Linked DNA regions of Homo sapiens: all the other regions are reported to be linked to region 2. Evidence: microRNA targets listed by miRTarBase, many of them from high-throughput screens and not tested one by one. Region 2 holds a microRNA gene; each other region holds the end of a gene's coding sequence.
Evidence for each region. Region 2 holds the annotated microRNA hsa-miR-5004-5p (UGAGGACAGGGCAAAUUCACGA, at 5,252-5,273, shown strand). A microRNA usually pairs through its seed, bases 2 to 8, with sites in the 3' UTR of a target mRNA and lowers its output. Matches are read on the target gene's strand: a 7mer-m8 pairs with bases 2 to 8, a 7mer-A1 pairs with bases 2 to 7 and ends in A, and an 8mer does both.

Region 1: the mRNA of ELP2 is a reported target of hsa-miR-5004-5p. Seed matches in the 3' UTR shown: 8mer at 5,617-5,624.
Region 3: the mRNA of RAI1 is a reported target of hsa-miR-5004-5p. Seed matches in the 3' UTR shown: 8mer at 5,847-5,854.
Region 4: miRTarBase lists ANXA11 as a target of hsa-miR-5004-5p. Seed matches in the 3' UTR shown: 7mer-m8 at 6,122-6,128 and 8mer at 2,176-2,183.

What each region holds. Positions count from the first base shown.
Region 1 is chr18:36,174,251-36,182,187 of GRCh38, reverse strand. It overlaps ELP2 (elongator acetyltransferase complex subunit 2), which reads right to left. Exons shown (of 22, transcript NM_018255.4): 22 at 1,631-7,703. The coding sequence ends at 7,547. COSMOC (cell fate and sterol metabolism associated divergent transcript of MOCOS) reads left to right here. Exons shown (of 2, transcript NR_134605.1): 2 at 1,798-2,187. Among named protein-coding and RNA genes, the nearest start is that of COSMOC, 9.2 kb to the left of the region's middle.
Region 2 is chr6:33,433,100-33,440,994 of GRCh38, forward strand. MIR5004 (microRNA 5004) reads left to right here and starts at 5,232; the gene lies at 5,232-5,338. SYNGAP1 (synaptic Ras GTPase activating protein 1) reads left to right here. Exons shown (of 19, transcript NM_006772.3): 6 at 2,053-2,206; 7 at 2,416-2,514; 8 at 4,569-5,192; 9 at 5,320-5,464; 10 at 5,676-5,820; 11 at 7,630-7,866. It overlaps SYNGAP1-AS1 (SYNGAP1 antisense RNA 1), which reads right to left. Exons shown (of 3, transcript NR_174954.1): 3 at 4,264-4,382. RefSeq lists a silencer at 4,754-4,931.
Region 3 is chr17:17,809,562-17,816,959 of GRCh38, reverse strand. RAI1 (retinoic acid induced 1) reads right to left here. Exons shown (of 6, transcript NM_030665.4): 6 at 5,507-6,990. The coding sequence ends at 6,979. It overlaps SREBF1 (sterol regulatory element binding transcription factor 1), which reads left to right. Exons shown (of 19, transcript NM_004176.5): 9 at 1-2; 10 at 242-503; 11 at 587-753; 12 at 932-1,100; 13 at 1,631-1,739; 14 at 2,016-2,125; 15 at 2,213-2,345; 16 at 2,550-2,715; 17 at 3,191-3,391; 18 at 3,481-3,592; 19 at 4,109-5,626. The coding sequence ends at 4,338. MIR6777 (microRNA 6777) reads left to right here and starts at 3,415; the gene lies at 3,415-3,480. MIR33B (microRNA 33b) reads left to right here and starts at 3,029; the gene lies at 3,029-3,124. RefSeq lists an enhancer at 3,645-4,203.
Region 4 is chr10:80,149,291-80,157,375 of GRCh38, forward strand. ANXA11 (annexin A11) reads right to left here. Exons shown (of 16, transcript NM_145868.2): 16 at 1,599-6,622. The coding sequence ends at 6,563. Among named protein-coding and RNA genes, the nearest start is that of PLAC9, 21 kb to the left of the region's middle.

The sequences.
Region 1 (7,937 bases), not on the chromosome of region 2:
ACCAAACCCACCAATACTAGGTAGACCACAGGACTGAGAGGGCAAAGGGCCCAGAGCAGCAATCTTCCTGGCGCTGTCTTCCTGGGGGCTCGGCTTCTCCCATGTTCATTCATGAGCAGGTCCACTGGGCCAGGCCAGCCCCTTCTTGGTCCCTTCTGTGCTAGCACCTCCCTCCTACTCTTTGCCCCCTACCCCTTTAACCACCAAGACAGGAATCTCAGATATTCTATTTACCGACTGGCAGATTACATTTGAGAATACTTCCTCCACCAGCCATCAGCATTATCAAACTCATTCATCCCTGAATTCAGCAAATATGTGGCAATACATATTTGCTGAATTCAGGGATGCTGTGGACAACAGGAAAACCATCTGATGCGCAGGTGTTTAGGCTTTAGCAGGTTCGTATAGGGGGCTTGCATTGGTTGCCCATCCTGTATCCATTGGCCCCTCTGATTTTGCTTTGGAGAACCACCCCACGTTAGAGCAGCTATGTGATCTCACTGGGACCTACTCTGCCTCTAGGCCAGCACAGGTGATCTCACAGCTTGTTACATCAGATGGGCAGGCCCAAGCCACTTAACATGCGGCTTTCCCCTGCCCACTGTGATTAGCTGAGGAATGGTCCAGTCAGAGTAAAGTTAGAGACTTAATGCTAAGAGTTATTTCCTTTGATACTAACAAGGAAAAAAGTAATGTAGGGGCTGTTTGCATTCCTCTTACGGCAATGAGGGAGAACGGCCTCAGGGGAAAGCTGCCATGTGGCCAGGCATGGTGGCCCACCCCTATAATCCCAGCACTTCGGGAGGCCAAGACAGGAGGATGGCTTGAGCCCAGGAGTTTGAGACCAGCTTGGGCAACATAGTAAGGCCCTGTCTCTATTAAAAATAATAACGGGCCAGGCCCAGTGGCTCATGCCTGTAATCCCAGCACTTCGGGAGGCCAAGACAGGAGGATGGCTTGAGCCCAGGAGTTTGAGACCAGCTTGGGCAACATAGTAAGGCCCTGCCTCTATTAAAAATAATAACGGGCCAGGCCCAGTGGCTCATGCCTGTAATCCCAGCACTTTGGGAAGCTGAGGTGGGTGGATCACCTGAGGTCAGGAGTTCAGGACTAGCCTGGCCAACATGGTGAAACCCCGTCTCTACTAAAAATACAAAAATTAGCCAGGAGTGTTGGCATGTGCCTGTAATCCCAGCTATTCAGGGGGCTGAGGCAGGAGAATCACTTGAACCCAGGAGTTGGAGGTTGCAGTGAGCCGAGATCACGCCACTGCACTCCAGCCTGGGCAACAAGAGTGAAACTCAGTCTCAAATAATAACAAAAGAAGAAGGCTGCCATGGAAAGGGCAGAGCTAAGCAAACTAGAGAAAGGAAGGCAGAGCCCATATCAAACTGCACCTGAAGCCTATCCCACCACTGAATTTTTCTCAGTCATATGAGCCAGTAATTCCTTTGTGTTTGAGATGAACTTCCTTACAATAGAAGGCATCTACCTGACACAGCATAAAACATACACAAAAATAGAAGATATAAGGTGACAAGTGCCATAAAACAAAACTGGAATAAAATACTCCGGAATTCAGAGGAAAAACAAAAAAGAATACTTGAGGGGTTTACCAAAGGCTCTATGGAGTTGACACGAGCAGAGCTTTATTTAATCATAATAGTACCAGATACAAATTACTGCTGTCTTATTTATATCCCAGGGACCAAACTAGTGTTTTTCATATATTGGCTCATTTAATTCTCAGAACAATCCTACACACTGGTTACTGTTGTTCTCCCTTTCTTCCAGAATGAAGCACCCCAGTTCTCTGCTGAGCACATGGGCATCTGCAATAAAGATTTAATTTCCCAGCTTCTCCTGAAGCTCGGTATGGCCACAACACTAAATTCTGCCCGAGGAGATTAAGCAAAATAGTATGGGACTTCCAAGAAATGTTTTTAAAGTCAGGGGCAGGCCTTTCTTCATGCCTTCTTCCTCTTTGCTGGCTGGAACGCAAAGACCATGGCAGGAGGCCAAGCAGCCATCCTGGAAGGTGAAAGCCTCATACTAAGGACGTCAGACAGCGAAATAAGAGCCTGGGTCCTTGACCCTGTAGACATCTCCCTCCCCATCCTGGTCTGTCTGCCTTGACTCCTTTCATATGAGAGAAATAAACTTTTAACTTGCGTAAACCAGAAAGAAAATTTTACAATTTTTTTTCACACACAGTTGAATGGAAGCCAGACTCATACACTAATCTCATCTCCACTTTTAGAGATGAGGGGAACAGCTTGCCCACAGTGACAGCCAGTGTGAGCTGGGTTTCTGTTGCCCAACTCATTGGGGTTCCAACCCTCACCTAGACTGCCCTATGAAATACCTAGAACTTGGTCAGGAGAAAAGATAAGAGGGGAAAATGTCAGCAAAAGCCAAAGACTAAGGGTAGCAGGGGCAGAAGTGAGAGTGGGAAGTGAAAGGTGATATAATTTCCCTATTCCACTGAGCAGGAAGAGGCTGCCTTTGCATCCCTCTGTGTCGGGAGACAGTCTGGGGACAGTCAGCAGGCACCTTGCTGCAGGAGAGCCCCTGCAAGAGCAGCCTTTGTGGAGCTGTCCCTTCCACCCCAGTAGGAGCTTCTCGGACACAGCATGGCCTCTCTCCTTCACTCTGGTGTCTTCACTCAGTACTGGGTCCCAGATTTTTTTTTTTTTTTTTTTTTTTTTTGAGATGGAGTCTCACTCTGTTGCCCAGGCTGGAGTGCAGTGGCTCGATCTCGGCCCACTGCAACCTCCTCCTCCTCCTGGGTTCAAGCGGTTCTCCTGCCTCAGCCTCTGGAACATCTGGGATTACAGGCGCCCACCACCATGCCCGACTAATTTTTTTTTTTTTTTTGTATTTTTAGTAGAGATGGGGTTTCACCATGTTGGCCAGGCTGGTCTCGAACTCCTGACCTCAAGTGATCCACCCGCCTCAGCCTCCCAAATTGCTGGGATTACAGGCATGAGCCACCACGCCCGGCCCGGGTCCCAGATCTCTGAGTCCACCAGAGTGGGGCTCAGAGTCCTCTATCCACCAACCACATGCAGCCATCCAACACGCTGTCTCTCTTCTGGCCTCAGCCTCATTGTCCTTGGAGTGCCAGTCTCTTGTTTAAGCATGGCAGAGCCTTAATACTGGACCATCCACTACATGCTAGAAGGGGAAGAACTCCTCACAATGTAACAATTTTTGTATTTAACTTATGGATATGCTCATTCTTTCTAAACAATTCTTATAAGGAAATTTTAAGTATATTAAAAAATTAGAATAGTATGACCACCCCAACACTGCCCAGCTTCATTAATAATCCACACATCTAAAACCCATCTAGTCCTTGACACACACACAATCATTATGAAACAACCCAAGACATAAATTGATTTCATCCATAAATACTGAAATTATGATTCAAGAGAACTTTTTTTTTTTTTTTCTTAAACCAAGGCTGAGGTGGGAGAACTGCTTGAGCCCAGGAGTTCAAGACCAGCTTAGGTAACACTGCAAAACCCAGTCTCTAGAGAAAAAAAAAACAAAACCAATCATAACCATAGCCCCACTGTCATATGTTTAAATGTTGTTTCCTTAATATCATCAAATATCCAGCCAGAGTTCAAATTTGCTTTGTCCCTTAAGCACATTTTTACAAGATTGATTGGCTAGTTCAGATCAAGAGGCAAACAAGGTTCATACATTGCACTGGATTCACACGTCTCAAGTATCTTTCAATCTCCAGGCTTCCCTTCCCTTCCCTTTTCCTCTTGTAATGTATTTGTTGAAGAATCTAGGTCCCTCTGTAGTCACTCCTCTCCCCATTCCCAGCCCCTGGTAACCACTTACCTGTTTTCTGACCCTATAATTTTGTAGGGCCCACTTTGTACTGATGTACTTCTGACTAGGTGTGTTTATGTTCAAGCATCAGAGCCAAGGCCCAAACCTCTACCCTGGCCCTCCTTCTGCTGTGGCCCAACTGTACCCAGAGCTGGGCTCTCCCGTCTCCCTGCCTGTTAATCCTAGAAGTGGGTGCCGAGGAGGGAGAAACAGGAAGGAGGGAGTTGGGGAGGGCAGCTTGTTACATGGACATCAGGGCTGTTCCCACTAGCAGCAACAGCTTTGTGTTAGCTTGGCTCCAATTTGAATGAAATATTCCAAGGCCATTTTCCCCAACACGTTGTTACCAAAAAAACTCCCAGCATGCAGAAAAGTTGAAAGAATTGTACAGTGAACACCCCTTAAGGAGTTTCTACCATTAACATTTTATTTAAAGGCTTTGGGACTCTGAAGTATAATGTTTGTGAAATGCTATGAGCCAGACCCTCCACACTGAAAATTCCCAGTGTAAATTAATTTGTTAAATGCTCTTAGAATTCCTGCAATAAAGAACACCTATCTAACCTTAGTTATCCCTGTGTTTCCCAAATATATCTTACTTTGGAGCACTTTTTTTTTAGTACCGATTTACATCCTGGGAAATGGTGTTTACCATGCTTTAAAAAAAACTGTGGTAAAATAAAGATAAGATTTACCATCTTAACCATTTTAGAGTGTACAGTTGAGTTGGCATACAGCATTCACATAACTTAACTGTGCAACCAATCCACAGGACTTTTTATCTTGCAAAACTGAAACACTATACCCATTAAACAACTCCTCATTTCCTCCTCCCCCAGTCCTTGGCAACTACCATTCTACTTGTTTCTATGCATTTGACTGCTCTAGATACTTCACATAAATGGAAGCATAGAGTATTTGTCTTCCAGTGACTGGCTTACTTCACTTAGCATCATGTCCTCAAGATTCATCCATGTTGCAGCACATGTCAGCGTATCTTCCTTTTAGAGGCTGAATAATATTCCACTGTATGAATATACCACATTTTGTTGATCATTCACCCACTGATGGGCACATATTGCTTCCATCTCTTAGCTACTGTGAATAATGGTGCCGTGAGTATGGGCATACAAAAACTACCACTAATATTTTACAGTGCTTGCTTCATATCTGTCCATGTGTCCGTCACTCCACCCATCATATTTTTTATGTATTTCATAAGTTACAGACCACAGTAACTTCCCTCAAACATGTCAGTATACATATCAATGACCAGCGTTCATTGTTTTTTTCCAAGTCATTTTGAACTGCCGTAGCAATGAGTAATATAGCCTCAAACGCACACATACACACACAACACGTGCGTCACTACAGAAAACTTTTCCTGGCAGACAGGAAAGGGCCCATTGTTGGTGATGTCATTTTAATTAAGATAAAACCACCACCACCATTTAGTAATAGCCTGGGGTAACAAGGGCTGCGTCACGGACTGCCACTTTTGCCATCCTGCTCAGAGCAGGGCCATGCCTAACCCGTATCTGGGGATTGCTTCAGATATTATGAATCGCTTCAATATTATGAATTACTACAATTCATAATAATTGCTTCAGATATTATGAATTACAATATGGTTCAAAGGTGCTTTAGCAGATGAAGACACAAATGTGTAAACACATATGAATTACAATGCAGACTGCCCAGATGTGTAGCAAGTCCTCTGAATGTTTACTAAACAGTAAGGTGATTCCAGAGGAAGATGCTTGAGGACAATTTGGGAAAACTGACAACTTGAAAACTCAGTCTCTCTAGGCAAGGCCTACTTGCAGATAACCTTGGGAGTTCTGTGCTGGGAGGAAAGCTAAAGGACTAAGTTAGGCCTCTGAATCTGCTCTGGAAGCCTGCATGCACTTGGGTCAGAACAAGCCCATGTGTCAATGTGGGTAAAGATTCCTCAGCTGATAAGCAGGAAAATGGGCAGGGCATTTTGGTCTTTGAGGTTCAAAGCTCAGATGCTCACTGCCTTGGTATACACGCACACACACCCCACCCCCCAGCTGACGGCACAAGAGTATACAGATGCAATAGTCTAAAGTACATTGTCCAAATATGGATGGCCATGAGCCACATGTGGCTATGAAGCACTTAAATGTGGCTAGTCTGAACTGAGATGGGCCCTATAAAATATTTCAGTAACAGGTTTTTATACTGATTATAGGTTGACATAATAATATTTTGGATATACCGTATTAAAGGAAATATGTCATTAAATTTCACCTGTTTCCTTTATTATGTGGCTACTTGAAAATTTTAAAATTACATATGTAGCTCACACTATAAAACACAGATTAGAAATATTGTATAGCACTGACCTAGAAACCTCCATTTAGGTAAAACATCTTAACCCCTTTGGAAGCAAAATATGTTAAATAACAGCATAAACTCCCACCAAGAAAATCCTCACCTTCCTCCTTTCAACACATTTATTATATACAGCTGTCACTGCATTGTCAATCTGCCAAATGGCTCTATGTTCCAACAGGGCTGGAGTAGTCCCCTGCTCACACCAGCCTTCACAATACTTCCCATGTCTTCCCTGTTAACCTCTCTCCACCCAGCACCCAGGCTCCCAACTCTCCTGGCTGCCTCCAGCCCTCAGCTGGCACCACTGACATGCTGTTTCCAGTACCCTTTTCTTCTTTCTGCATCCTCCCTGGGGGACATATATCCCTCATCTCGTGACTTCAGCTGTCACATAAATTCAAATGTTTCAGAACTCTATTTTTTACCTCCTACATCTGTCAGTTTAAATGTCAGGATATTTTACTTTCAGTAAAGCCCTAAAAAGACAAATCTATGTACTTTTAAAGAATAAAAGAAATGACTGGCTGCAGCTCAAACCTACAACTGCTTGCGAAACTCTACAATGTCTGGCAGATGCTAGAAAGAAGGGGATCAAGACAGAGCACACTTGGCGTGGTATGCTATCTATAGAAAATGTTAAAATAAAATTAAGTAATCTAGGTTTCCTCTCTTTATTTTCTACATCTACTCTCTGAAGAGGGCAATAAATAAGGAAATGTCCCAAAGAGGGACAAATTAAGTCCCAAAATAACACAAAATTGGGCAAATCCAGTCATGAAGAAAGAACAGAGGTTCTTAAATTGGGACACACAGAGGCAGGTCTGCAGGTCTAGGAATCTCTGAACATATGTGCAAAATTCTGGGTATGTGTGCATATGTTATATAACAAAGCGAAGGGTCCATATAGCTTTCATCGCATTTCAAAGGGTCTAGCACTGAAATAAGGACTACTGCTATGTGACTTAAAAAATGAAACTCAGGCTGGGCGCAGTGGCTCACGCCTGTAATCCCAGCACTTTGGGAGGCCGAGGCAAGCAGATCACCTGAGACGAGGAGTTTGAGACCCGCCTGGCCAACGGTGAAACCCAGTCTCTACTAAAAATACAAAAATTAGCCGGAATTGGTGGTGTGCCTCTAGTCCCAGCTACTCAGGAGGCTGAAGAAAGAGAATCGCTTGAACCTGGGAGGTGGAGGTTGTGACAAAGCAAGACTCCATCTCAAAAAAAAAAAAAACCCAGAAACTCAATTCAGTTATGAAGGTAAAGATGACCTGTTTACATGATAATATTTTAAGATACCAGTGACTGCAAGCATGTAGTTATTAAGTCCATTACAGTGCACATTTATTGACTCTGTGTATCTTCACAGTGTGATCTTCACCACAGCTTGCAAAGTGTAACCACTCAGCACCTTCTGCTTCCTTCTGTTCAGTTTTTCCACTGCAATTCTTCCAGCATAATTTTCTGATAGCCAGTGTATGACTTTGGCTAAAACAAAGATAGAGAAATCATGAAATGTTTTTCCAATTAATGGTGTAAACATGAATGGAAGTTAAAACCTGAAAATTGAAATGTACAGGTTTTAAAATCGCATCATTAACATTTTAGCCATTTTATTTTAACCTGGAAAATATTTTACTATATTTACTTAAAACTGCAAGACTAAATTTTAATCTTACTCACTGGCAATAACATCACCAAAATGAGCAAGACACAGACAAT
Region 2 (7,895 bases):
CCCAGGATCAAAGGAGCTGTACAGGAGGAGAGTGACCCTGGAGGAATGTTTAAGGAATGCAGGGAAGGGGTTGGTAGGTGAGTGAGCAATAGGCTGTAGGTGGAAGGGTGTCAGGGAAGGTCAGGAAATACAGGGGCAGCAGGTTGGAGTGGGGCTGGGGGTGGCTGAATGAATGGATGATGGCTAGGGCTCAAGGACCTCATCAGTGAGGGAAGAGACAGTATAGAGCATGGCAGAGAAGGGGAGGCTGGGACAGGTGTGCAGGGTGACAGAATGGGAAGCAACCCATGGACTGAGGCATGAAGAAGCAGCCAGCGGAGAAGTCCAGAAGGCACTGTCCCTGAGACCAGGCTGAAGGAGACCTCCACTGTTTGCCTTTGTTGCCTGCCATTTGGGGTTCCTCTCTGGGTTTCCCCCTCACCCAGTCACTCCCCAGGGAGAACCATGCCCTCCCTTTCCCCCATGTCTGGCCACCCCCAGGATTGGGCAGGTAGGGAGGTTGGGATAAAGTGAGTCACACCTTTCCCTGCCCCCCTCCCATGTTGCCAGAGCTGGATTTGGGGCCGGCAGGGGGTGAGGGCATGGTATTCCTGGCCGCGGGGGCGGGGGGGGGGGTCCGGGGGCCGGGGGAGCGTCGCGCTGACGGCAGCCAGAGCCTGCGATGACGGGGCTGCTATAAATAACTTCTTGGAGGCTCCCACACCCAAGCTCCCCTCCCGCTTTCCCACTGCTCTCTACTCTTCATCCCCTGCCCATCTCCATACCGCTTTTGTATTGCTATCCTACCCCTCATTATTCCATGCCCCTAGCCCCCTTTATCTTCTGCCCTCCTGCAGTGATTTTTTTGCATTCCATCCCCTCTTAGCCCTCACCTCGGTTCTCCCGGCCATCTCTCCAGTTGGCCTTCCTCCTCTTCTCCTGTCCTCTGTCTTGCTGCACATACCTTTGTCTCCCCCTTTCTTCTTCTTGCCCTACCTCCTCTTCTTCCCTAGTCCGTGTATTCTGTCTTTTATCCTCTTTGAGCTCTTTTCTGCCCACAGCTTTCTCCTATTTCTTATGCTTTTCCCTCACTCTTTCCCCTGCTTCTGCTAAAACTTGTCCTCTTATGCTGTGTTCATTCATTCTTTGAATCATTAAATGTTTATCAGGCACTAGCCGTGTGCCAGGCCCAGGCTAGACATATCTCTTCTCTGTGCCTTCACTTCTTTACTTCCACTTTTTCCTTTATACTGAGGCTCTGGTTTCTGGGGTTACCTGGAGGTACTACCTAGAAGTGCCCCAGGCCCACTTTGTTCTCTCCTTTTTTTTTTTTCTTTTCTGCCATGGTCCATTTCTGGGTTGAGATATTTCTAGATGTCCCCAGTCCTCGCAATCCCTTAGGTGTGAGATGGTGGGAGTTTCTTTTTTTTCCTTTTTTTTTTTTTAAATAGAAATAGGGTCTCACTGTGTTGCCCAGACTGGTCTTGAACTCCTGGGCTCAAGTGACCCTCCCACCTCGGCCTTTGAAATGTTGGGATTACAGGTGTGAGCCACCAGGCCCAGGTGGAGCAGGGGAGTTCCTTAAAGGATTCTGATTTTTCTCACATCCCTCACGTCCTTCCTGATAGGCAGGGTTTCTTTCTGTGTCTGTTTGGGAAGGGTGTTCAGGGGGCCTTCTCTCCAAGTCTCCATCCTGGAACAGACTGATGATGCAGGGTACCTATGTGTCTAAGAAGAGTAGGGGGGCCGGGCGCGGTGGCTCATGCCTGTAATCCCAGCACTTTGGGAGGCTGAATCACTTGAGGTCAGGAGTTTGAGACCAGCCTGACCAACAGGGTGAAACCCCGTCTCAGCTAAAAATACAAAAAAAAAAAAGAAAAAAAAATTAGCTGGGTGTGCTGAGGCAGGAGAGACGCTTGAGCCCAGGAGGCAGAAGTTGCAGCAAGCCGAGATCACACCACTGTACTCCAGCCTGGGCGACAGAGCAAGACTGTCTCAAAAAAAAAAAAAAAAAAAAAAAAGGAAGAGTGGGAAGCCCTGATCCCTTCCTCTCCTGAACCTCCTGCCTGCCAGGGCCCGGCTGATGCAAAGCTTTAAGGAGTCACACTCTCATGAGTCCTTGCTGAGTCCTAGCAGTGCAGCTGAGGCATTGGAGCTCAACTTGGATGAAGATTCCATTATCAAGCCAGTGCACAGCTCCATCCTGGGCCAGGAGTTCTGTTTTGAGGTACTGGGTCTGGTGGGCTGGGGAGGGCCAAAGGACAGGGGTGATGGAAGGTGGGGGGCAGAGAGGTCTAGAGAAAGTGGCACAGGTGGGGACATCAAGGAAACAGAAACTTCTGGGACTGGAGGAAAGGGTAGGCCAGGGAGGAAGAGAAGGTAGCAGAGTCTCCTCCCCTCTGTAGCCCTTTCCCTCAACTCCACACTCCTTTCTAGGTAACAACTTCATCAGGAACAAAATGCTTTGCCTGTCGGTCTGCGGCCGAAAGAGACAAATGGATTGAGAATCTGCAGCGGGCAGTAAAGCCCAACAAGGTATTGGGGAATAAAGGGGACACAACCTGTGCAGGGCAAAGGTTGCACCAACACGGGAAGCTGGGGGCCTAGGGAGGAAAGTGAGTTAAAGGAGGAGAGGCTTGGGGAAGGAGAGGATTGAGGTACAGTGTATCTGGACAAGCAGGGGGAGACCCCCATTATTCTGAGTCCCCCATTTCTTTTCGCTTTCTGTACTGCTACCCTGCCTTACGATCTCTTTCCCTGCCATAGAAGTCATAGACTTACAGAGTTGATGGGGCTCTGGAAATTCTTTAGTCTAGCTTCCCTGCAGGCAGGAATGCTTCACTAATACCCCGCAGGACACATCAAATACACTTAGCCAAGTTTCTGTACCTTGGTTTCCTCTCTAAGACAGAGGGAACTGGTGGCAATGGGTTGGATTAAATGATCTCTAAGGTCCCTTTGGCACATAAATTCTATGAGTCTGTTCTTCCCAAAACTTCATGCTTCCAGTTCTGTCAGCTATTCTCTGTATCCCAGTTTCTAGCAAGCTTACAGTCCTAGTCACACTCCTCTGGGGGGAACTCTTGTGTCTTGATGTCCTTAAAGAACTCAACCCAAGATGCTGACATGATCTGACCTATGCAGAGTACAAACACCATGTTCCCTTTCAACACACTGCAATATCACCTGAGCCTTACCATTAGCTTGTGCTCAATTGTATCCCCCCAGGCCCTTACTGATTCTTTTTTTTTTTTTTTTGAGACAGAGTCTCACTCTGTCACCCAGGCTGGAGTGCAGTGGCGTGATCTTGGCTCACTGCAACCTCCGCCTCCTGGGTTTAAGCAATTCCTGTGCCTCAGCCTCCCCAGTAGCTGGGATTACAGGCATGCACCACCACACCCGACTAATTTTTGTATTTTTAGTAGAGACGAGGTTTCACCATGTTGGCCAGGCTAGTCTCAAACTCCTGACCTCAGGTTGTCTGCCTGCCTCAGCCTCCCAAAGTGCTAGGATTACAGGCATGAGCCACCACATCTGGCCAAGCTTTACCCATTCTATATGCAATTCTTTTTTCACAATTTCTGATAGTCTCTGCAGGACTTTCCAGTTCCCTTCAAATTCTACATTAATATTTTTGGCTTGTTATTCCAGCTTTTGAAATCTTTCCAATACTGTTTGTGTTGTCTAGTGTATGTCTACGCTTCTACAGTAGCTTCCTGGGGCTGCTATAACAAACTGCTACAAACTGGGTCACGTAAAACAACAGAAATTTATTCTCTCACAGTTCAGGAGGCTGGAAGTCCAAAAGCAAGGTATCAGCAGGGCCACGCTCTCTTTGATGCTGTAGCAGGGAATCCTTCCTTGCCTCTTCCTAGCTTCCGGAGGTTGCCAGCAGTCCTTGGCATTCCTGGGCTTATAACTGCATCCGTCTAATTTCTGCCTCCATCTTCATGTAGCTGGCTTCCTTCTGTGTGTCTCTGTATCCTGTATCTCTGTGTCTCCAAATCTCCCTCTCCATATAAAGACACCAGTTTTTATAAGGTGGGTTAAGGGTCCACTCTAATTCAGTATGGCCTCTTTTTTTTGAGATGGAATATCGCTCTTGTTTCCCAGGCTTGGAGTGCAATGGCATGAGCTCAGCTCACTGCAACCTCCGCCTTCCAGGTTCAAGTGATTCTCCTGCCTCAGCCTCCTGAGTAGCTGGGATTACAGGCACGTGCCACTATGCCCAGCTAATTTGTTTTTGTATTTTTATTAGAGACGGGGTTTCACTATGTTGGCCAGGCTGGCTCGAACTCCTGACCTCAGGCAATCCACCCACCTCGGCCTCCCAAAGTGCTGGGATTACAGGAATGAGATACCATGGCTGGCCTCTTCTTAGTTTGATTACATTTGCAGGGATCCTGTTTCCAAATAAGATCACATTCACAGGTTCAGGGTAGACATGAGTTTTGGTGGGATACTATTCAACCCAGTACACCGTCTCACCTTATGATTGCTGTCTGTATCCCACTTTCTTACTGTCTCTCCTCTTTTGGTGTCTCTCTGTCCCTTCCCCCTTTAACATCATGCCCACCCCACCATGCCAGGACAACAGCCGCCGGGTAGACAATGTGCTAAAGCTGTGGATCATAGAGGCCCGGGAGCTGCCCCCCAAGAAGCGGTACTACTGTGAGCTCTGCCTGGATGACATGCTGTATGCACGCACCACCTCCAAGCCCCGCTCTGCCTCTGGGGACACCGTCTTCTGGGGCGAGCACTTCGAGTTTAACAACCTGCCGGCTGTCCGTGCCCTGCGGCTGCATCTGTACCGTGACTCAGACAAAAAGCGCAAGAAGGACAAGGCAGGCTATGTCGGCCTGGTGACTGTGCCAGTGGCCACCCTGGCTGGGCGCCACTTCACAGAGCAGTGGTACCCTGTAACCCTGCCAACAGGCAGTGGGGGATCTGGGGGCATGGGTTCGGGAGGGGGAGGGGGCTCGGGGGGTGGCTCAGGGGGCAAGGGCAAAGGAGGTTGCCCGGCTGTGCGGCTGAAAGCACGTTACCAGACAATGAGCATCTTGCCCATGGAGCTATATAAAGAGTTTGCAGAGTATGTCACCAACCATTATCGGATGCTGTGTGCAGTCTTGGAGCCCGCCCTGAATGTCAAAGGCAAGGAGGAGGTTGCCAGTGCACTAGTTCACATCCTGCAGAGTACAGGCAAGGCCAAGGTGAGTGTTGTGCCCTCAGGGAAAGGTGACTTGGGAATGGGCACTTGCTTGGGGGTTAGTGAGGACAGGGCAAATTCACGAGATTGGGTTGTGCAGAGGCTGACACTTGGATTTTCCTGGGCCTCAGGACTTCCTTTCAGACATGGCCATGTCTGAGGTAGACCGGTTCATGGAACGGGAGCACCTCATATTCCGCGAGAACACGCTTGCCACTAAAGCCATAGAAGAGTATATGAGACTGATTGGTCAGAAATACCTCAAGGATGCCATTGGTATGGCCCACACTCAGGCCCTCTTCTTCCCAAACCTGCCAGATGTCCACCCCAGACCCCAAGTCCACCCTTCCACAGCTTGATACTTCCTAACCCAGAGTCCTAGGACTCCAGCCTCCAACACCTGATTCTGAAATTTCCCCAACCCTGGCCACCCCCTTCCCTGCCCTTGGAAAGTGTGACCACACCCTCTTGTGCCCCCACCCCCCAGGAGAATTCATCCGTGCTCTGTATGAATCTGAGGAAAACTGCGAGGTAGACCCTATCAAGTGCACAGCATCCAGTTTGGCAGAGCACCAGGCCAACCTGCGAATGTGCTGTGAGTTGGCCCTGTGCAAGGTGGTCAACTCCCACTGGTGAGACTGGGAACGCTGGGCTGGGGGGCCAGGGTCGGGGGAATTATGTGTTCATCTGTTCATCTATCTGTCCATCCTCAAAGAGGACTGAGCACCATTTATGGGCAAAGCATTGTTCTAGGCGCTATAGAGCAAACAGGTGAAAGAGGCCTGGTCCCTGCCCTCAGAGGGCCTCCACCAGAATGGGGACAAATTAGAAGAAAAAAAAAAAAAGCCACAGAGCCATAATGGTGTGTAAGTGCTGAGTAAGGGTCCCCCCAACCTCTGTGTGACATAAGGTCAGAGAGAAGGCAGAGCTTTGAGATAAGTGGGGAAGAGGTGCCCCCTTGGGTAGGCTTTGAAGACTGGTTTAGGTTCTGATATATGGACATAGTTGGCAAGAAAGACATTTCAGAAGAAGGCTGTGAGAAAGGCACATGTGTGATGGTGAAAAGGCCCAGGAGTTTTCAGGGGACATTAAAGTAGGTTAGTAGCAATTACATCAGGTTTAGTGGAGCATGTGCCTCATAATGGGGAGTGGCGGGAGAGATGTCTGGGCAGGAAGATTAGCTTTAGAAACTGGAAGGCCTCAAGGAGTCTGAGGTCATTGGTAGGCCTTGGGATGCCATTAAAGGTGTCAGAAATATTGTGATTTAGAAGATTAATCCATAGGCTGGGCACGGTGGCTCACACCTGTAATACCAGCACTTTGGGAGGCTGAGGCGGGCAGACCACCTGAGGTCAGGAGTTTGAGACCAGGCTGACCAACATGGAGAAACCCTGTCTCTACTAAAAATACAAAATTAGCCAGATGTGGTGGCACATGCCTGTAATCCCAGCTATTCGGGAGGCTAAGGCAGGAGAATCACTTGAATCTGGGAGGTGGAGGTTGTAGTGAGCCGAGATCACACGATTGCACTCTAGCCTGGGCAACAAGAGTGAAACTCCATCTCAAAAAAAAAAAATTAATCCATAAGTAGAGTGTATGTAGTAGAGTAGAGGGATGTATGTTGGGGGATGACTGGAATAGAGCCAGCTGGGGGCTCGGAGGCATGAAAGTCAGATCCTGAATCAGAACAGTGACAGAAGTTAGGAAGGAGCTACTGGAAGGACCCTCTCGGGAAAGGATCAGTAGGAATTGTCAGCTTATTGGAAAGGAGGGAGCATGTCTGTGGGGAGTCACGGATGACTCAAGAGGCCATGAGGCTGGTGGTTGGGAGACCGGTGGCCTCATTGACAACCAGGAAAGTCAGGAGGAGGAGCCAGTTGGAGGTGTGGGGGCGATGGTGAGCTCTGCTTTACACCAGCCGAGTTTAAGGTGTCAGTGGGACATTGAAGTGGAACTGGGAGGTGCGGGGAGTGAGCTCTGAGCCATTCCAGGGACTGGGGATCATGCCTGGGGCACCTCCATCCCCATTTCCCTGGAATCCAGAAGAGTTGGGGGGTCCGAGCTCCCTGTACCTCAAGTGACCCTCCATCTCTCTCCCATCTCTGTCTCTCCCTGGTGTCTGTTTTTCTTCTCCTCCTCTCCTTGTCTCTCTCCCACACCCCTCCATCTCTCTCCCACGTGTCTCTCCCCTCACCTTCTCTCCCCCTCCATTTCTCTCTCCCTAATCTGTCTGTTCCCTCTGCCATGGCCCCCTTCTTCAAGCAGCCTCCCATCTTGCTCCTGCGGTCCCTCCTTCCCTGTCTCTCTCACCCCTGTTTCCACACCCTCACCTCCTACCACCCCCCTCAGCATGTTCCCTGGAAGCTGAGGGTCTCTGGGGCTCAGTCCCGGTCTCTCTCTTTCTCTCTCTCTCTCTCTGTCTCCCCGACCCTTCCCCCCAGCGTGTTCCCGAGGGAGCTGAAGGAGGTGTTTGCTTCGTGGCGGCTGCGCTGCGCAGAGCGAGGCCGGGAGGACATCGCAGACAGGCTTATCAGCGCCTCACTCTTCCTGCGCTTCCTCTGCCCAGCGATTATGTCGCCCAGTCTCTTTGGGCTTATGCAGGAGTACCCAGATGAGCAGACCTCACGAACCCTCACCCTCATTGCCAAGGTCATCCAGAACCTGGCCAACTTTTCCAAGTGAGGGAAGCTTCAGGAGTGGGCAGGGC
Region 3 (7,398 bases), not on the chromosome of region 2:
GGGTAAGGGGCTGGCCCCGGCAGAGTGGGCAGGGCAGGGACCCCAGGCTGTGAAGGTGCTGGGTGTCAACCCTTGTTCCTGCTCCCTGTGCACACCATGAATCTGTCCCGTCCTCCCTGTGCCTAGCCACGCATCCGCAGACCCCCACCACCCCTCCAGAGCCTGCTGTGGACGGCTCTTCTGAGCTTTGGGGCAGCTGCTCTGACCTCACTTTTCTCACCTGGAAAACCCTCATCCACAGGGAGACTTTGCCCAGGCTGCCCAGCAGCTGTGGCTGGCCCTGCGGGCACTGGGCCGGCCCCTGCCCACCTCCCACCTGGACCTGGCTTGTAGCCTCCTCTGGAACCTCATCCGTCACCTGCTGCAGCGTCTCTGGGTGGGCCGCTGGCTGGCAGGCCGGGCAGGGGGCCTGCAGCAGGACTGTGCTCTGCGAGTGGATGCTAGCGCCAGCGCCCGAGACGCAGCCCTGGTCTACCATAAGCTGCACCAGCTGCACACCATGGGTAGGACTGAGCGTGGGGCGGGCTCCGAGGTGCTCCCTGCTGCCTGTGCTCCACCCACAGCCTCATGCCTGCTTGCCTTCCAGGGAAGCACACAGGCGGGCACCTCACTGCCACCAACCTGGCGCTGAGTGCCCTGAACCTGGCAGAGTGTGCAGGGGATGCCGTGTCTGTGGCGACGCTGGCCGAGATCTATGTGGCGGCTGCATTGAGAGTGAAGACCAGTCTCCCACGGGCCTTGCATTTTCTGACAGTGAGTGGGTTGGGGGGCTGGGGGCTTATCCCTGCAGCTCTCTCCAGAGGCTCCCTGGGTAAGAGCTACACGGGATGTGGCAGTGGTTACCAGGGGGACTCCAGGCCAAGCTGGGACTCGGCCCGGGGTCTGGCCCCAGGCTGTGTCCACTGTGACAGCCCAGTACCCTCCCCTACAGCGCTTCTTCCTGAGCAGTGCCCGCCAGGCCTGCCTGGCACAGAGTGGCTCAGTGCCTCCTGCCATGCAGTGGCTCTGCCACCCCGTGGGCCACCGTTTCTTCGTGGATGGGGACTGGTCCGTGCTCAGTACCCCATGGGAGAGCCTGTACAGCTTGGCCGGGAACCCAGGTGCTCTCTTACCCCTTCCCTGTCCCCTCTCCTGTCCCTCATCCTCATTCCTGTCCTGTCCCTTGTCGCCTGAATCTCTGGCTGTCTCTGGCCACCCCAGTCCTTCTCCCTGCCATGGGTTGTTGCTGTGGGGGTTGCAGGAAGGGAAAGGCCTGGGTGCCTCTCGTTCCCATTGGGGCTTTCAGAAGCACATGCAGGGATTGATGGGCAGATGGCTAATTGGAGAAGTGACCCCAGGCAGTGCCGCTGTGGAGTAAGGAAGCGGAGCCAACAATGGCATCTTCTCAAGTCGGTTTTCCTTTGGAAGCAGTGTAGGGCAGGCCTCAGTGTTGTCTCCTGGCCAAGGCTGGTGCTGGTGATAGTTATGTCCACCCGCTTTCCCCTGTCCTTGGCAGGGGCTGCACCCAGGGGCATGCCGGCACTTCCCAGTGGCCCTAGGTGTGGCCCCAGCCCACCCAGGAAAAAGCCCTTAGCTTGGAGAGGAGGGTGGGGCCCTGCTCCCCACCCCACTCACCTCCTCCTCTCCACAGTGGACCCCCTGGCCCAGGTGACTCAGCTATTCCGGGAACATCTCTTAGAGCGAGCACTGAACTGTGTGACCCAGCCCAACCCCAGCCCTGGGTCAGCTGATGGGGACAAGTAAGTGTCGTTGTGCCCTCCTCCAGGCAAGGCCCCTCCGGCGGGATTCTGAGAATAGCTCTGGCCTCAACCCTGTGGAGAGAGCCCAGAGCTGGGCTACCGTGCGTGCCATGCACGCTTCATTCCTCTCTGAGTTTCCTCTCCCCACCAGCCTGTGGGAGGAGACAGTGGCACTTTGCAGAGCCAGGGGCCAGGCTGTACTCTGGAGGGCAGGTGGGGAGCACCCTCCTAGGACCCCTGCCATCTGTTCCGACAGCCAGCTCTCTCCTTCCACAGGGAATTCTCGGATGCCCTCGGGTACCTGCAGCTGCTGAACAGCTGTTCTGATGCTGCGGGGGCTCCTGCCTACAGCTTCTCCATCAGTTCCAGCATGGCCACCACCACCGGTGAGTCCCCGGCCCCTGTCCTGGCTCCCTTCTCAGCTCCCCCGTGCAGCGTGACTGAGGGTTCAGGGGACCCTCCCTCTTCTGCAGGCGTAGACCCGGTGGCCAAGTGGTGGGCCTCTCTGACAGCTGTGGTGATCCACTGGCTGCGGCGGGATGAGGAGGCGGCTGAGCGGCTGTGCCCGCTGGTGGAGCACCTGCCCCGGGTGCTGCAGGAGTCTGAGTGAGTGCACGGCAGGTTCCTCCTGCCTGGTCCCGGGCTCAGCCTTCCTCATCCCCTGGGCACTGTGCCTCACTCAGCCTTTGTTCTGTGCAGGAGGAGTCACCACCTTTTTTCCTCAGGGAACTCGAGCCAGGGAAGTGGGGGGCACTCAGCCAGGGCTTGTGGACTGGTCTGACTGGCACTCTTCTGCCCTGGTCCCAACAGGAGACCCCTGCCCAGGGCAGCTCTGCACTCCTTCAAGGCTGCCCGGGCCCTGCTGGGCTGTGCCAAGGCAGAGTCTGGTCCAGCCAGCCTGACCATCTGTGAGAAGGCCAGTGGGTACCTGCAGGACAGCCTGGCTACCACACCAGCCAGCAGCTCCATTGACAAGGTGAGGGGTGGGGTCAGGGGCCTGGCAGGGCTGGGGGATTCAGCTTTCCATTCCCTGGTTCCTCTCCCCAGCCCCCAGGGGCTGCAGAAGACCATGGGGTTAGCCCAAGCAGCACAGGATAGGGGGTCCAGCAGACCCTGCTTTTTGGCTAAGGCTTCTGTCCAGAGGAGAGGGGTTGCCCCTATCTGGCCTCAGTTTCCCCATCCCTGGGAGGAGGGGGGTGGATGGTGTGGTAGGATCCCTTTGGAGGCCCTGCATCAGGAGGGCTGGACAGCTGCTCCCGGGCCGGTGGCGGGTGTGGGGGCCGAGAGAGGCGGGCGGCCCCGCGGTGCATTGCTGTTGCATTGCACGTGTGTGAGGCGGGTGCAGTGCCTCGGCAGTGCAGCCCGGAGCCGGCCCCTGGCACCACGGGCCCCCATCCTGCCCCTCCCAGAGCTGGAGCCCTGGTGACCCCTGCCCTGCCTGCCACCCCCAGGCCGTGCAGCTGTTCCTGTGTGACCTGCTTCTTGTGGTGCGCACCAGCCTGTGGCGGCAGCAGCAGCCCCCGGCCCCGGCCCCAGCAGCCCAGGGCACCAGCAGCAGGCCCCAGGCTTCCGCCCTTGAGCTGCGTGGCTTCCAACGGGACCTGAGCAGCCTGAGGCGGCTGGCACAGAGCTTCCGGCCCGCCATGCGGAGGGTGAGTGCCCGATGGCCCTGTCCTCAAGACGGGGAGTCAGGCAGTGGTGGAGATGGAGAGCCCTGAGCCTCCACTCTCCTGGCCCCCAGGTGTTCCTACATGAGGCCACGGCCCGGCTGATGGCGGGGGCCAGCCCCACACGGACACACCAGCTCCTCGACCGCAGTCTGAGGCGGCGGGCAGGCCCCGGTGGCAAAGGAGGTGAGGGGGCAGCTGCTGACCAGGGATGTGCTGTCTGCTCAGCAGGGAAGGGCGCACATGGGATGTGATACCAAGGGAGGCTGTGTGTGTGTCAGACGGGACAGACAGGCCTGGCGCAGTGGCTCACACCTAGCACTTTGGGAGGCTCAGTTGGGAGGACAGCTTGAGCCCAGGAGTTGGAGGCCGCAGTGAGCCTGAGTGACAGGGAGAGTCCCTGTCTCAAAAAAAAAAAAAGACCAAGCATCTTCTTGATGGTTACCTGATGACAATTCCTTTCACAAGGAATCAGTGGGGTGACTGTCATTTGTGGGATACATGACTGCACGTGCGTGACTCAGTCTGTGGACTTTGTGTGTGGGCTGAGACTAGGGTGGGGAGAGGGGAACCCGCCAGGCCCCCGCCAGGTACCTGTGTGCCAGGTACAGGCGGCTGGTGCCGTGGCTTGTGTGTGGGCAGGGCTCCCGCGGGGGCGTGGCCAGCTTGAGACCCATCCCTGACACATCCTCGTGTGCGCAGGCGCGGTGGCGGAGCTGGAGCCGCGGCCCACGCGGCGGGAGCACGCGGAGGCCTTGCTGCTGGCCTCCTGCTACCTGCCCCCCGGCTTCCTGTCGGCGCCCGGGCAGCGCGTGGGCATGCTGGCTGAGGCGGCGCGCACACTCGAGAAGCTTGGCGATCGCCGGCTGCTGCACGACTGTCAGCAGATGCTCATGCGCCTGGGCGGTGGGACCACTGTCACTTCCAGCTAGACCCCGTGTCCCCGGCCTCAGCACCCCTGTCTCTAGCCACTTTGGTCCCGTGCAGCTTCTGTCCTGCGTCGAAGCTTTGAAGGCCGAAGGCAGTGCAAGAGACTCTGGCCTCCACAGTTCGACCTGCGGCTGCTGTGTGCCTTCGCGGTGGAAGGCCCGAGGGGCGCGATCTTGACCCTAAGACCGGCGGCCATGATGGTGCTGACCTCTGGTGGCCGATCGGGGCACTGCAGGGGCCGAGCCATTTTGGGGGGCCCCCCTCCTTGCTCTGCAGGCACCTTAGTGGCTTTTTTCCTCCTGTGTACAGGGAAGAGAGGGGTACATTTCCCTGTGCTGACGGAAGCCAACTTGGCTTTCCCGGACTGCAAGCAGGGCTCTGCCCCAGAGGCCTCTCTCTCCGTCGTGGGAGAGAGACGTGTACATAGTGTAGGTCAGCGTGCTTAGCCTCCTGACCTGAGGCTCCTGTGCTACTTTGCCTTTTGCAAACTTTATTTTCATAGATTGAGAAGTTTTGTACAGAGAATTAAAAATGAAATTATTTATAATCTGGGTTTTGTGTCTTCAGCTGATGGATGTGCTGACTAGTGAGAGTGCTTGGGCCCTCCCCCAGCACCTAGGGAAAGGCTTCCCCTCCCCCTCCGGCCACAAGGTACACAACTTTTAACTTAGCTCTTCCCGATGTTTGTTTGTTAGTGGGAGGAGTGGGGAGGGCTGGCTGTATGGCCTCCAGCCTACCTGTTCCCCCTGCTCCCAGGGCACATGGTTGGGCTGTGTCAACCCTTAGGGCCTCCATGGGGTCAGTTGTCCCTTCTCACCTCCCAGCTCTGTCCCCATCAGGTCCCTGGGTGGCACGGGAGGATGGACTGACTTCCAGGACCTGTTGTGTGACAGGAGCTACAGCTTGGGTCTCCCTGCAAGAAGTCTGGCACGTCTCACCTCCCCCATCCCGGCCCCTGGTCATCTCACAGCAAAGAAGCCTCCTCCCTCCCGACCTGCCGCCACACTGGAGAGGGGGCACAGGGGCGGGGGAGGTTTCCTGTTCTGTGAAAGGCCGACTCCCTGACTCCATTCATGCCCCCCCCCCCAGCCCCTCCCTTCATTCCCATTCCCCAACCTAAAGCCTGGCCCGGCTCCCAGCTGAATCTGGTCGGAATCCACGGGCTGCAGATTTTCCAAAACAATCGTTGTATCTTTATTGACTTTTTTTTTTTTTTTTTTCTGAATGCAATGACTGTTTTTTACTCTTAAGGAAAATAAACATCTTTTAGAAACAGCTCGATACACACAATCTTCAGTGTGAAGCAATATACTAATAAGAACACTAGTCGTCTTAACATTTACAGTCTTCATATATATTATATATATGTATATGTATACATATATATACACTATATAACGAGGCCAGATATAATACACACGTTTACCATTTTACAGTCATATGTACAGGAAGTTGCTAGGGCGGCCCTGGGCTGGGGGCTGCGTCAGGCCTATCGAAGCGTGGACAGAGCTGAGGACACGGACGGACAGGCGGACGGACTGGCAGGGACTGGCCCGGGCCGGTGGTGGCTGCGTGGACAAGTGGCGTCGCGGTAGCCCCTTACCCGGCAAAGGCCCGGTTGGGGCTCTGTTGCGGGCGCACGACGCACGGCGGCGACACACGGGAGAAGCGAGCATGTTCCCAACATATATACATTCTATGTAACATATATATAGAGGGGTACACAGGTTTTGTACACGAAATCTAGCGCTGTCCCTGCTCCCGTGCAGAGTAGGCGCGGCGGTCCCTGGTGGTGCACAACGGTCGCGCGTCCGCCGGAGCCGGAGGTGCGTTCTGGCCGCTTCTTGGGTTTTGCGCTCCCAGGCTGGGCTCCAGGGGTGGGGTGGAGGACTGGAAAGGGGACAAACAGAGGCCAAAGGGTGTCCCAGTCCCGCCCACACTCGGGGATCCCGCAACCCCTAACTGAGCATAGCCCAGGTCTACCCCGGCTTTGCCCGAACCGCACGAGAGATCTGGCAAAGGCTGGGCGGGAAGGCCCCTGGACGCGTTCCGCACGGTTTGTTCCAAAGGCTCCGGCCTCTCCAGTGCCGGCCTAGCCCGCTCTCAGAAAGGCTTCCTTTCTCCCCCGCCTAGTCCACGGAGCTAGGAGCCGCCCTCCGCCTCTTCCAGTACTGTTTCGACCCCCACCCCCAAGCCCAGGGCTCCCAGCTGCACGCCACGACCGACTGGGGTGGCGGCAGCACCCACGTGGAATGTGTGCCACGTCGTCTTGAGATTCCAGAGGGAAAGTGTCCCCAGGACAAAGCCGTCTCCCACCCTCGCCGGAGGCTGAGCGCCCCGGGGAGTCTGGCCGCTCCGCGGGCTCCCCCTCCGCAAGCCTGGCCCCTGGGGTGGGCAAGAACGCCCTGTGCCGTCCGGTTCCGGGAGCAGGCGGCTCCGGAACGGGTTTTCCTCCCAACCCGGGGCCGCAAGTCTGAGCCCTAGGCGGCCGGATCCACGATCCGGGACCCGGATCAAGGATCGGCTCTGGACCAGCGCTGGGAGCAGCTCAAAGGCCCGGGGGCTGCGCAGGCGGCTCCTCTCCTTCGGCGGCGGGCGGGCAGGCGGGCTCCGGCGGCTCCTCCGGCCGTTGGGGTGGATTACTACGGCAGCCTCTGCAAAAGACGCCCGCCCGCCAGTTACCGACGACCTCGGACTTCACAGTCCATAGGCCCCGCCCCCAGTGTGGGCCCCCCGCCTAAGCCCCAGACCCAGGCGACCCCAGAGCGCGGCTGGGGTCTCCGCCCGAGGCCGTCGGCACCACCCCTTCTGGCCCCACCCCGTCCAGCTTCACCTTCACCTTCGCCTTCAGCTCCGTGCCACCGTCCCGCGCCCCCGCCTGCCCCACTCTGTCACCTATCTTGGGGAGCTGCAGGGAGGCCGTCCCAGGGACGCCCTCCAGCCCCTGGCTGCCCATGCCCCGACGCCTGCGGGTTTTCGGCGGCGGCGGCGCGCAAGTGGACAGGGACCTGAGCTGGACGGCGGCGGGGGCTCCTGGGGGTGGGCGGGGAGAGCTCCCTCCC
Region 4 (8,085 bases), not on the chromosome of region 2:
CATTGAGCTTTTTGTATGTGTAGATTAATGTCTTTCATTATGTTTTCAGCCATTGTTTCTTTAAAAATTTCTTCTACATTCACTCTTCTCTTGATTCTTATTAGGTGTATGTTGGTACACTTGATGGTGTCCTGCAGGTGTCTTAGGCTCAGTTAGCTTTTTTGTTGTTGTTGTTTTCTTTCTGCACCTCAGAATGGGTAATCTCAATTGACCTATCTTGAAGTTTGCTGATTTTTGTCTTCTTCCTTTTTAAGTCTGCTCTGGAACCCTTCCAATGAATTTTTTATTTGTGTACTTCTCAATTCCAGAACTTCTATTTGGTTCCTTTTTATAATTCCAGTCTCTTTACCAATATTGGTGAGACATCATTCTCCTGGTTTCCTTTAGTTCTTTGACCTTTCTGAAAATAATTGACTTAAAGTCTTGTCTGTTAAGTCCAATGTCTGAGCTTTCCTCAGTTTCTATTAACAGATTTTTTTTCTATGTATGAGCCATACTTTGTTTCTTCGCATACCTCATAGTTTTTGTTGAAAACTGAACATTCTGAATATTATTTATAATGTGGCAAGTTTGGAAATAAAATTATTCCTCCACTGTGTCACCTAGGCTGGAGTGCAATGGCAGGATTATGGCTCACTACAGCCTGGACCTCCCAGGGTCAGGTGATCCTCCCACCTCAGCCTCCTGGGCAGCTGGGACTATAAGTGTGTGCCACCAGGCCCTGCAAATTTTTAGTATTTTTTGCAGAGATGGGGTTTTGCCATGTTGCCCAGGCTGGTCTCAAAGTCCTGGGTTCAAGTGATCCACCTGCCTCAGCCTCCCAAAGTGCTGGGATTACCGATGTGAGCCACTGTGCCCAGCCTGTTATTTTCTTGAACTACATTTTTAGTTTTTTAGTTTGTATTCTTTGTCAGGTGTGGCCACTAAGTCTTTGGTTAGCTTAGTGGTCAGCTAGTGATTCAAAAGATTTCTTTGAACACTTGGAACAACAAAATGCCTCGTAGCATTTGCAGATGTGTTCTGTGTTGGGACACACCTTTCAACCTTCACCCATGCAGTTTATAACTATGCCTTAGCCTTCACTTCCTGCTTGCACGGAGCCTGAAGGTCAGGCAGAGGTGACAGCATAGGGCCCTCTCAAGTCTTTTTAAGCACATGCCCAGCCCTAGGCATGTGTATGGTCTTTCAGATTCCCAGGAATATGTGGAATCTCTTTAAAGTCCTTATTCTCACCCAAAGAATCTTATTTCCTAGCCTTTCCTCCTGAAGCTTTTCAATTTGTCTCCTGTTTGCTCCAAATGTTATTCCTTCCCCTAGGCATGAGCCACTAATACACTGACCTTGAAACGTCTTTCCAGGCTGCCATCTTCACTTTAGGAGAGCTCCAAATTAGGCAAAATAAAAGAAAGGCATTTGAACCAGTCCTTCAGGGAGCAACAAATCAAATCAAAATCAACATACTTCTTGAAAATAAGGTCTAATCTGCTACCTCCAGTGACAGGAACCTATACAGGGAATGAGGGATATTGTTTTTGATGCTGCTGCCATGCTGGGGAGTGGGGGATGGGGCCAGGGTAAGCTAAAACACAACAAAGCTCTCTTACTAAATCCAGCTTTTATTCTTAGGTATTCACCTGATTGCTGTAAACTTTCAATTCGTTTCCAGAGTTCCCATAAATTTGAGTTTTTGCCACCTTATTTGCTGCTTTTGTGGAAGGACAGACTTGTGGAATTTCCTATTCCATTTCGTTGACCACATTAAAGTTTTAGAAGCTCTCCTCTAGTCTACCCTTCATTTTAAAAAGTCAAAAAGACAGGAAGTGACATATCCAGGGTCACACAACAAATCAGGGGCTGAGCTGAGATCAGAATAAGGATGTTTGACTCTCAGGTCAGAGCTCTTTCTGCTTCAGGACTTCATCAGCTCTTAGTGTTGAGAAGGAGTCAGGCTCAAGCTAAACACCAATATTAGGCCAAGGGGCAGCTTTCCAAGGAGTAGGGGCTGAGGGTAAGAGTCCTTGGTATACCTGGTGGGCTTGACTGACTCCTTTACTGACAGGGGACCCTACATGAGTCCAGGTTGTGGACTGAGTAATGATGTCCCTATCCCTTAGAAAAACACAGGCAGAGAGCTTTCAGATTTGATGGGGGTGAAAATGTAAACCTTTATCTTTCTGAGGACATGTATTTAGCTTGATGTTTCTAGGTCTCATTCCACTCCATCTCGGCCAGGGCAGGAAAGAGCCTACAGCAGAAATAAGGAGCCAGGTCCTAAGGTAGGGCTGTAACTCCCTGCCAAGGCCAACAGAAAATGGGCATGGCATGGCATTAAACCACCACTTTGACCGTGGGCACCTGCAAAGGTTCATCTTTCAGCTCCCTCTTCCCAAAGCTAGGAGTGCCTCATCTCATCTCTCATCACCTGACTGAATTCCAAGCAGACTGTGCCATCTGCTCACCTGCCCTCTGGAGGAACACCTCTACTTTTGCGGTGTTCTCTGTGTGAGCACAGTAGTATTTAGATAAGCGTTAGATTACAGCAGGTTACAGATGCAGTTTCCCAGTCCCCACACCTGCTCAAAATGCATGAGGGTCTGACCGCAGGAACTGCTCTTTAGCAAGCTCCCCTGATGATCCTGATACACACTCAGGCTTGAAAACCACCACTTTAGGACCATCTACCCAGCCACAGGGTGAGCACTCCAAGGTTTCTTTCTTAAATTTTGCACCTGAGACAAATGCCACCAGGACTAGGGTGAGGCGAGTGAGGCTATCTGTCTCAGGTGCAAAACTATTTAATAGTGTTTCCTCCAGCGCCCCCACAGCTGCTGAAAATTCTCTCAGGGCTGAATTCATCTGGTGCTTCTATTTTAGAAGTCAGACTAGATGTGTAGCATGGACTGGCCTTGACTAACATATCCAGGAGGCAGGAGAAGACCCATTGTGTTCTATCCCAGAAAGATGACCTGTAAGGTTGCACATCTTTCTCCCTATCTTTTTTGTCCTAAGCATAATAAACAGTGTTGATCCCAACCTCCCACTGACCTTGGAAGGCAGTAGGTGCCTTTGCCTCTGGGAAGATCATGAGGCATTCATGCAGTCCTCCAGCCCATACTTAACATGGGTTGGATCTCTTGGGAGTGACCATGAGGGCAGCGAGAGGAACAGGAAGGCAGGGAGAAACAGGACTAGGACAAACACAGGTGTCAGGTCCACAACTATGCCAAATGTCATGCCCAGGGTCAGGTTCCAGCCCATGCTGAGGTTCGAGGGGACTGGGTGGATGGGCGATAGCTGAAAGAAAACCTGGCGGGCCATAGGCAGGTAAAATGTAGTTTTATTCAGCAGCTATCTCATCAGCAGCTCTCACACTGTCCACCTTTACCTAGGCTGTCTTCTCCAGATCTGCAGCTCCTCTCAGCAGCCAGCTCTGTGGCTCCTGCCACCCCCATGCTTGCAGGTGCACTCCCTGGCTACAGGGTCAGCGGCTTAACTCTCCCTCTGGGCACAAGCTGAGCCATGTCCTGGCTCCCCTCTATCTATCTGCCAGATGGTCACTCTCCCTTACAGGGGTCAATAGCTTCACTCTCTCTGGGTGCTAGTGCACACCACGTGGAGCCATGCCCATCCGAGCCCAAGAACATCTGTACAGCGTCAGCAGGGCAGTTATACCTTTTCCAAACAATAGTGGCTTTGAGCCAAGTATGAACTTACACAAGCAGGTTATATAACAAGTGGAGTATACGCCTGTGACCTAAACTCGCTGAGTCACTCTGGCCTGGATATCCACCTTGGTCTATTCCTTGACCAAAGCACATCCATGTACTTTACAACAGGTGGTCTCCAAGTGTGTAGACCAGGGTCTCAAACCCAAAGGCCTGCAGGAGCCAAATGGGTGACATGGGCTTAGTGTAATACAAGACGGAGCCTATAGCAAATAAGGAGTACAGGCCTAAAGGGGCAGCTGCAACTCAGCTCCAGCCATGCAGGAATGCAAGCCCCATAGTGCCAGAATTTCTGAGTTTTCAAGAGAAGCCAGAATTCCAGATTTTTAAAAATATGAAATCTCTCAATGTTTAAATGTTGGCAACAAATTCAAATGTCTAAAAACACTTTGGAAACCAAAGTAAATGTGTCTGTAGGTGCAATATTGCCTGCTGGGCACCAGGCTGGGAACTTTGGAGTAAACAGGGCAAGGTAATGTCACAGAATATGGTCACATCAGAGCACATTGGTTCTAGGCCCCATCACAATTCAGGAGGCCCCCAGGGTCACCTTGAGTTCATGGCAAGTTGTATATGCCAAGCACCCCATCCCATCAGGCAGGTCCCACCTGGCACCCAAGGGCAAGGGGCCTGCCCTAGCAGAGGAGTTCTTGGGAGAGCAGCAGGGATGGGGCTTCAGCTTGGGCTTGAGGCATGGACTCTGACGCAGAGCTGACGTGTTGACCAGGACCTGCCATCAATCTCAGGTAGACCAGGCTAGTTCTCAGCTCATGGCTGCTCCACACCCTTCGGATGTCATTCTTCCTTTATGTTTAGGGGGTAGTCCTCAAGCAAATGTCTGCAGATGAGCTACTCCCTGGGGCTCCTGCCAGGACCCAGCAGGCTTGATCTAGCCTAGTCTCTCTGGATTCTCCCATTTCTTTTTGTTTTTTTCTCATTTGAGACAAGGTCTCGCTCTGTTGTCCAGGCTGGAGTGCAGTGGTGTAATCACAGCTTACTACGGCCTCAATTTCTTGGGCTCTAAGGATCTTCCTGCCTCAGCCTCCAGAGTAGCCGACTATAGGGAATGCACTACAATGCCAGGTAAATTTTTTTTTTTTTTTGAGACAGAGTCTCACTCTGTCCACCCAGGTTGAAGTGCAATGGTGTGATCTCAGCTCACTACAACCTCTGCCTCCTGGGTTCAAGTGATTCTCCTGCCTCAGCATCCTGTGTAGCTGGGATTACAGGAATGTGCCACCATGCCTGGCTAATTTTTGTATTTTTAGTAGAGATGGGGTTTCACCATGTTGGCCAGGCTGGGTCTCGAACTCCTGACCTCAGGTGATCTGCCCGCCTCACCTCCCAAAGTGCTGGGATTACAGCCGTGAGCCACCACGCCTGGCCAAATTTTTTAGTAGAGACAGGGGTCTCGCTGTTGGCTAGGCTAGTCTTGAACTCCTGAGCTCAAGTGATCCTCTCACCTCAGCTTCCCAAAGTCCTTGGATTACAGGCGTGAGCCATAGTGCCTAGTCGATTCTCTCTTTTCTAAACCTCAACGCAGGAGGTTGGAAAAGGAGTGGGTGGAGACCCCTGATGCAAGGTAAGCTCTAGCTTCTGGACATGACACCATAATTCTCAGAAACTCTCTTATGGATTCTCTTCCCTCACACCACCAACCAACGGGCACAGGGTCCCCAGAGACCAGAGCCAGGAGCCCCTTTCAGCCTGGAGGCACCCTGAGGGGAGGCACTGGTCTTGTGACTCTCTGGGTTGTCCCCATCCTTCTCTCTGGCCCCCGCCGAGGGGCACCAGGAATTAGCACACACCCTTCTTCCCTCCTGGGACCTGGGTGAAGGACTGCATTCTTCGCACCACACCTTCAGTGGACTTCACTGCACCTGCAACCAACCAAGATCCCTTTGCCTTTCAGGTGTCTGGGCCTCCTGCCTGGATTTCGGGAACCTCCCTTCCCATGTCCTTACGAGTCCCTGCAAACTAGTGTATGCTCAGGGTTTCCTGCACACAAATCTCTACGTAAGGTTACATGAACTTTCACTGGCTGATAAGGCCAGACCTCTGAGCCACAGGGCAGAATCAAGCAGAAGAAAACAAGTTGGTACCAGGAAGACATTTCCAGACCATTCCAGAGCTGGCTGACTCTTAATGTGGAAACAAGTTTTGGCTACAGACATTCAGGTTTAAGGCACATACCACAAATTACAAGAAGCCCTGTCACTGACAGGGAACTGGCTTTGTTCTCGTGGTTTCTGCAAGGAAGATGGAAGGAATGACTTTCTGGCCCTTTTTTTTTGTTTTTTCTAAAAAGGAGTGAGTTTGGCAGTAACAAAGCTCGTGACACACTCACCAGATGCACAGGCTACCTTCTCAGGCACGCCTCCCTTTCTCTCCTCAGCGAGGACACGGTGCTTCACCCACCCAGTCGCCCTCACCAGAAATGTGTATGCAGCAAACAGACTTGTATGCCTCTGTCTGGCAATGACTGTAAGAAAAGAAAATATGCCTCCAAATAAAAATATACAATTACATGACGAAATGAAGCCAAGTCTTAGCCACAGGCAAAGGGGAATGATTGCATGAGTCAGAAAAATGAAACATCTATTTTAGCAGCAAGAGGCTGTGAGGGATGGGGTAGAAAAGGCATCCTGAGAGAGTTCTAGACCGACCCAGGTCCTGTGGCACACTATACGGGTCAGGAGGGGTGGAAGACAGGCCTAAGCTCTAGGACGGTGAATCTCGGGGCTATTTGTGGATTTGTTAGAAACAGACATTCTTTTGGCCTTTTCCTGGCACTGGTGTTGCCGGCAGGTGGGCAGAAGTGAGCCACCAGTCACTGTTCAGTCATTGCCACCACAGATCTTCAGCAGAATCTTCCGGTAATCCCCTGAAGTATCTCCCTGGCCACAGAAACAAGGAAGACATCCGTTAAGGGAGGGACAGTCACTTTCAGCCTTCTGGGTCCTGATATTCAGCCCTGAGCACCCTTATAGGGAGAAAGCCCCACCCTGGGGAATTTTCTCCCACTGCAGGTCCTGCAGCAGGCGTCACAGACCTTAAAAAATGCAGTTCAGCCTTCTCCAGGCCCCCATCAGAAGACGGAAAGCAGCACTCACCCCAGCTATCCACATCAAATGAATACCCACAAAAAAAAATTATAATCATCCTAAAAACCACTTCCCAGGGCTAACCAATATTGCTGTTTTCCCAGTGCATTTATGCTGCCTTAAATTGGGGTTACCAATGTAACGCAACACAGTGTCCTGCTCAGGAAATGCAATCTCCTCACACATGACTGTCCAGTGGAAGGCTCAGACTGCCCAGGTCCCAGGGATCTCTCCTCTGTCTGAGGCCACTACACTTACTCTAAGAGTGCAGGCTCGGCTTGGCTCATTTCTAATCATTTCCTTCCACCCTAAGCAACTTGAGGGCAAGGCATGTGGCTTCTTCCAGATGTCCATAGCTTGCTGGCATGCAGGAGATACTCTGTAATGAATTATTAACTCTCTTTTTTTTTTTGAGACGAAGTCTCACTCTGTCACCAAGACTGAAGTGGAATGGCGTGATCCCAGCTCACTGCAACCTCTGTCTCCCGGGTTCAAGCAATTCTCCTGCCGCAGCCTACCTAATTAGCTGGGATTACAGGCAAGCCCAGCTAATTTTGTATTTTTAGTAGAGACAGGGTTTTACCTTGTTGGCCAGGCTGGTCTCGAACTCCTGACCTCAAATGATCCACCTGCCTCAGCCTCCCAAAGTGCTGGGATTACAGGCGTGAGCCACTGTGCCCAGCCTAGAATCACTAATTCTCTAACAACAGCTTCATTCATACAGCCAAGGAAACACAGTGAGTTTCCTGTGATGACATGCCCACCATCATCAAATGCTACTGAGTCTAAGGTGGGAGGACGTGGTCCCCATGGTGCAATTGCAAGGCTCATGTGAGTTCAGAATTTGAGCGTTAGACCACACAGCTGAGAATGTATTTTGTCAGACTGGCTCTGCCACACAGCGATACAACTGTGGCTAGTGTTTAATAGACACTTGACCTGCACTGCCTCACTCAATACTCACAACATTCCCAGGAAGGAACGATTATTTTCTCATCTTAAAGACAATGGAGCTGGGGTTCAGGGAGATTTAAGGGAGCCATTCAAGGTCACACAGTTAGCAAGTAGAAAAGCTGGACTCCAAGTGGCGTGACCCCCAGGGCCCTCGCTCTGAACGGCCTTACTATGTGGCCTACGCCATAAAGCTGAGTGCAGGAAGTGCTTTGTCAGGGAGTGACAGCAGAGCTCCACAGAGCCTTTGGGACATGAGTTCTCACTGACAGATCAAGGAATCACACGGTGATCGGAACGCTGAA